Regions from separate parts of the Homo sapiens genome. Here region 1 is linked to region 2. The links come from fine-mapping of genetic effects on gene expression. A gene starts in region 2. The other region holds a variant in brackets. All regions are shown on one strand. Distances are between the middles of the regions. Region 1 overlaps CACNG6 (calcium voltage-gated channel auxiliary subunit gamma 6). Region 2 holds the start of CACNG6 (calcium voltage-gated channel auxiliary subunit gamma 6).

Region 1 (2,779 bases), 22 kb before region 2:
CACCACTGCCCTCCAGCCTGGGCGACAGAGTGAGACTGCAAAATAAAAATAAAAATAAAATCACATGATCATCTCAATAGATGCAGAAAAAGCATTTTGATATGGGAGGGGGGCAGAGAACTGCTGGGTAGAGAAGGGCAGGGTCTCTGGCAAGGGCTCTACCCTAGGGCCTGTGCCCATGGACCTAAATTAGAACAGGCATTTCCGAAGGTGCTGGGATTACAGATGTGAGCCACCACACCCAGCTAATTTTTGTATGTTTTGTTGTTGTTGATTTGTTTTGTTTGTTTGTTTGTTTTTAGTAGAGACAGGGTTTCACCATGTTGGCCAGGCAGATCTCGAACTCCTGACCTCAGGTGATCCACCCGCCTCGACCTCCCAAGGTGCTGGAGTTACAGGCATGAGCCGTCGCGTGGGGCCAAGACTCACCCTTTTCTTAACACCTGGCAACCACTAGTCTGTCTTCCGGGTCTGCAATTTAGTGACTTCAAGAATAAGAAACCTTGTTTCAACCCCTTGACCTGATGCCAGTGTGTCTCTGCTCAGCAAGCTCCCATGGCTCCTCAGTACCCTCAGGGTAAAGGCCAAGCTGTTCTGTTGAGCATCTGAGTCTCTCCACCTTGTTCATAAGACAGCCCACCCCAACCCTCTCACGTTTCCTGTGTCTCACTCTGAACACCAGCGTTCACATTTCCTCACTCACAGGTTCATCATGTTTTTCCTCTTGTTTCTGTCCAGGCTCTCCCACCCAGCTGGAACGCCCGTGACGTTCTCCACTTTCTCTGATTCTTACTCACCTTGAAGACTCAAGTTCGTCATCTTCTTCGGAAGGCTTTCCTGAACCAATCCCCCTTCCCCCCACCTTTTTGATTTTTTTTTTTTTTTTTTTTTTTTTTGAGACGGAGTCTTGCTCTGTCACCCAGGCTGGAGTGCAGTGGCGAGATCCCGGCTCACTGCAACCTCCAACTCCCAGGTTCAAGCAATTCTCCTGACTCAGCCTCCCGAGTAGCTGGGATTACAGGTGCCTGCCACCACACCCAGCTAATTTTTGTATTTTTAGTAGAGACGGGGGTTCACCGTGTTGGCCAGGCTGGTCTTGAACTCCTGACCTCAGGTGATCCACCCGCCTTGGCATCCCAAAGTGCTGGGATTACAGGCGTGAGCCGCCACACCCGACCAGAAAACACAATTTAGAATATATACACTGTTAATGGTTGAATGTTCTCCCCTACAAAATGTATATATATATATATATGTTGGACCCTAACCCCCAGTACCTAAGAATGTGACCTCATTTGGAGATACGGTCTTTACAGAGATAATCAAGTTAAAATAAGGTCATTGGGGGTAAATCCTAATCACGTATGACAGGAGTCATGTGTAAAGGGGAAATCTGGGTGGGGTACGGTGGCTCACGCCTGTAATCCCAGCACTTTGGGAGGCTGAGACAGGTGGATCACTTGAGATCAGGAGTTCGAGACCAGCCTGGTTAACATGGTAAAACCCCGTCTCTTCTAAAAAAAAAAAAA[AAAT/T]ACAAAAATTAGCTGGGCATGGTGGCTCGTGCCTGTAAACGCAGCTACTTGCGAGGCTGAGGCAGGAGAATCACTTGAGCCCAGGAGGCGGAGGTTGCGGTGAGCCAAGATTGCAGCACTACACTCCAGCCTGGGAGACAGAGCAAGACTCCGTCTCAAAATAAAAATAAAAATAAAAAATATATTGTGTTTTCCACACTCTCAACCATTGTGTATGGGTTCGTTTTCATGTGACTTCTGGGCTTAAAAGTGTTTCTGGAGGGTATGTTTCTGGAGGGAATATGGGGTCACTTTTCTTTACCCCAGAATGCACGATCACATCACAAATAGACTCCAAAGCAAAGTTGTTAAATTTCCAAACCTTTAATCCCAAATCAGATCACAGCGAGGCCAGACCCTTCGCTATCTCCCCCAACCGCACCCGGAGCTGCAGATGAGTTGTAAAAAGTCTCTCCCGGCAAGTGAATCGATCCAGACCTGGGAAATGAAGGGGCCCCCAACTCCCACCCAAGACCCCCTGACCTCATCCCCCAACCCCACACCCCAGCTACCCCATCAGGTCCCCGCCAGTCTTCTCTGGGGACCCTCGTTTGCAAAGAGCCTCTTCCCATCCCACCCCCAAGCAACCCACATACAGCCACAGAGAAAAACGTATTTACAGAGGGAGAAAGGATAAGGGGACAGGAGGCAGGCGTGTAAAAAAACATGGGCCCCCGAGCAGGGAGAACACAGTTTCTCTAGGAGATGGGGCAAAAAGATCTTGGGGGTACAATGGAGAAGGTCAAAGGGCTCGGTGGTTGCTTAGAGAAGTCTCACGCGTGGCTCTAGGTGGCCCGGTGCCCCCGCTTGGGACAGAGGGACCCCCAGGGCCAGGAAGGCAGTGTGAGCAGCAGAAAGCAGCCGGCCCCCAACAGCAGGATCAGGCCGGCCCCCACGCCGCAGCCCAGGGACCAGGAGTACTCGTAGGTGAGGCGTGGGGCCGGGGGAGGCTCCGGGCTGACTCTCTGCAGCAGGGCCCTCACGGAATGCCGGAACACCTCCAGGCTCACCAAGAGCAGCAGGCCTGCGGGAGAGAGGACAGCTCGCAGTCAGACGCCCGCGACCCCAGCTGTGTCTGAACATCTCCGCCATCCGCTCCCAGCCCTCCCGCCCACCCTGGCACCTTCCCACGCGTGCACTCAACAAATACTTACTAAACACCTACTATATAGCAGGCAGCATTTGGGAAGCTGGAGATAAAGAAAAAA
Region 2 (2,779 bases):
AGAGCCGGCGAAGGGCCTCGAGGGGCGGGAGCGAGGAGCGGCCTGGGGTCTTGAAGGGGGTGAGGGACTCAGTTTCCCCTGGGTATGAAAGAGGGAGAGCCGAGTCCTGTCTGGAATCTCAAATGCGAAAGTCGAGATTGCTTCTGGGGTTCAGAAGAGAAAAATGATCCCCAGGGCTGGGGAAGCCTCTGGGGTTCAGAGGAGGGTCTAGGTTGCCCTCAAGAACTTGGCAAAGAAGACGGGGCCCAGAGGAAAAACAAGGCCCCCACCCTGAGGTTTAGAGATAGAATTCGGCTTCCCAGGAGGGAGTCCCCCCAAGAGCTCCAGAGGAATGAGAACTGGTGCCCGCTGAAGCTCCCTGCAGCTCCAAGGGGCTGCTTTGGGGTCCCCGCTGGGGGGTTAACAAAAGGGAAACTGGTTTTCCTGAGAGATCTGAGCACCCCACTAGGGCTAAGAGTTTGGGGTACCCAGGAAGGGACCTGAGGTCCTGTGTGTGTTTGGAGGAGATGTGGCCGGGGTTCCCTTGGGCTCAGAGTTTGAGAACAGAGGACTTGGGGACCCTCTGGGATTCGGAAAAGGAAGACCTGGGGTCCCGGGAAGCTCCCAAGGGGAGGTCGGAATTCAATCCGGGTCTCAAGAGAGGCAGTAGGACCCCGGCATCCACAGAAGGAGAAGAACAGAGCCCTGGCTGGGGCTCAGAAGAGGACTGGGCCTCGCTGGAATTCAGGAAAAGGGGATAGGGGTCTCCCCTGCCATTCAGAAAAGATCCGAGGTCTCTACTGAGCCTGGAAAAGGGGCCGGTGGCCGGAAGACAGAGTGGAGTCCAGAGGCGGGAGGCTACGGGGCCTCCCCGAGGGCTGGGGCAGATGGGACCGGGGGCCCTCCTGGGGCTCACACTATGGGGCTGTGGTCCGCACTGCGGCTCGGAAAACCAGGACTGAGTCCCCCCAGGGTTCAAAGGCCAACCGCGACCCGCAAGAGACGCTGCGCCCCTTCGGGATCAGTCCGTCTCCCTCCCCCGGGCTCCCAGGGCCTTCCCGGTCGGGTTCGCGCCAGGCTCAGCCCCAGGCCAGGGCCCCCCCTCGGGGCTCCCACCCCCGACTCCCGAGCAGGGGCCCCTCTCGCTCTCCTGCCTCGGCCCCGCGCCGACCCCAGCTCCGCGCTGCCTCCGAAGCGTCCGGCTGTGCCCGCCACCGCCACCGGCCTGGCCTCCGCCCGCGCCCGGCCTCGTCCCCACCCGCCCACCCCCCACCCTCCACCCTCCACCCTCGGGGCTATTTCGGGCTTGACCCGTAAATAACACCCGCACCTGTCGCCCGGCGCCTGTTGCCATAGGGATCCCGGGTGTTTTAAGGGGACGAGGAAGGGGGGAGGGAGGCCGCCCGGGGAGGAAGGGGCCGAGCCTGATGGGACTTTCATTTCACTAAGGGGCAAGAGCGGCGCCGAGAGTCCCAGCTCCGCAGTCTCCCGGGCAGCAGGAGACGGGCGGGGCAGCAAGTCTGACTGGGGTTACCAGGGAGGAGGGGCGGGAGGCAGGGCCCCGGGTCTCAGGGAGGAGGGCCTGAGGCCAGGAGTCTTGGGTCCCTAAGGGAGAAGAAGCCTCGGTACCCCACTTCTGAGTGGTAGAGGAAGAAGGCCTGGGTACCCAGAATCTTGGATCTGAGAGGAGAGGAACCTGGTCTCCTAGGTCCTGGGCTCCTGAGTCTGAGGGAGGAGGGGCTGGGGGCCTGAACTCCTGGGTCTGAGGGAGGAGGGGCTGGGGTCTGGACTCCTGGGTCTGAGGGAGGAGGGGCTGGGCCTGGGCTCCTGAGTCTGAGGGAGGAGGGACTGGGGCCTGGACTTCTGGGTCTGAGGGAGGAGGGACTGGGGCCTGAACTCCTGGGTCTGAAGGAGGAGGGGCTGGGGGCCTGGACTCCTGGGTCTGAGGGAGGAGGGGCTGGGGGCCTGGACTCCTGGGTCTGAGGGAGGAGGGGTTGGGGGCCTGGGCTCCTGGGTCTGAGGGAGGAGGGGCTGGGGGTCTGGACTCCTGGGTCTGAGGGAGGAGGGGCTGGGGCCTGGACTCCTGGGTCTGAGGGAGGAGGGGCTGGGGGCCTGGGCTCCTGAGTCTGAGGGAGGAGGGGCTGGGGGCCTGGACTTCTGGGTCTGAGGGAGGAGGGACTGGGGCCTGAACTCCTGGGTCTGAAGGAGGAGGGGCTGGGGGCCTGGACTCCTGGGTCTGAGGGAGGAGGGGCTGGGGGCCTGGGCTCCTGGGTCTGAGGGAGGAGGGGCTGGGGGCCTGGGCTCCTGGGTCTGAGGGAGGAGGGGCTGGGGGCCTGGGCTCCTGGGTCTGAGGGAGGAAGGCCTGGGCCTGGACTCCTGGGTCTGAGGGAGGAGGGGGCAGGGGGCCTGGACTCCTGGATCTGAGGGAGGAGGGGCTGGGCCTGGACTCCTGGGTCTGAGGGAGGAGGAGGGCCGGGGAGCCTGGACTCCTGGTCAAGGCGTTGGCAGACCCAGAGTCCTGGGCCTCAGGGAGGAGACTGGGGCCAGAACCCTGGGTCTTGAAGGATGGAAGGCCTGATTTCCATGTTGGAGAAAGCGCAGGCCTCAGGGCAGGGCCGGCTGTCAGGGGCACAGAATGAAAGCAGCACTCCTCTTCATCGAGTTTATTAGACGGGGCACCCCTGGGGGACCTTCCATGCAGTTTCAGCTCCCCCAGGAGCAGGGACAGAGGACAGCCGTGTGGCATGGCGGCAGGGCCTGATCTTCAACCCCTCACCCCCTACCCCTCAGCCCTTCTGTG

Evidence for each region. PIP is the estimated chance that this variant, and not a neighbour inherited with it, causes the effect.
Region 1: its variant is the best candidate, but not a certain one, in a credible set for the expression of CACNG6 in whole blood (INTERVAL, PIP 0.68).

What each region holds. Positions count from the first base shown.
Region 1 is chr19:54,011,767-54,014,545 of GRCh38, reverse strand. It overlaps CACNG6 (calcium voltage-gated channel auxiliary subunit gamma 6), which reads right to left. Exons shown (of 4, transcript NM_145814.2): 4 at 1,880-2,595. The coding sequence ends at 2,357. Among named protein-coding and RNA genes, the nearest start is that of CACNG6, 22 kb to the right of the region's middle. The variant AAAT/T (reference allele first, on the strand shown) is at 1,530.
Region 2 is chr19:53,990,064-53,992,842 of GRCh38, reverse strand. It overlaps CACNG6 (calcium voltage-gated channel auxiliary subunit gamma 6), which reads right to left and starts at 1,206. Exons shown (of 4, transcript NM_145814.2): 1 at 1-1,206. It overlaps CACNG8 (calcium voltage-gated channel auxiliary subunit gamma 8), which reads right to left. Exons shown (of 4, transcript NM_031895.6): 4 at 2,628-2,779.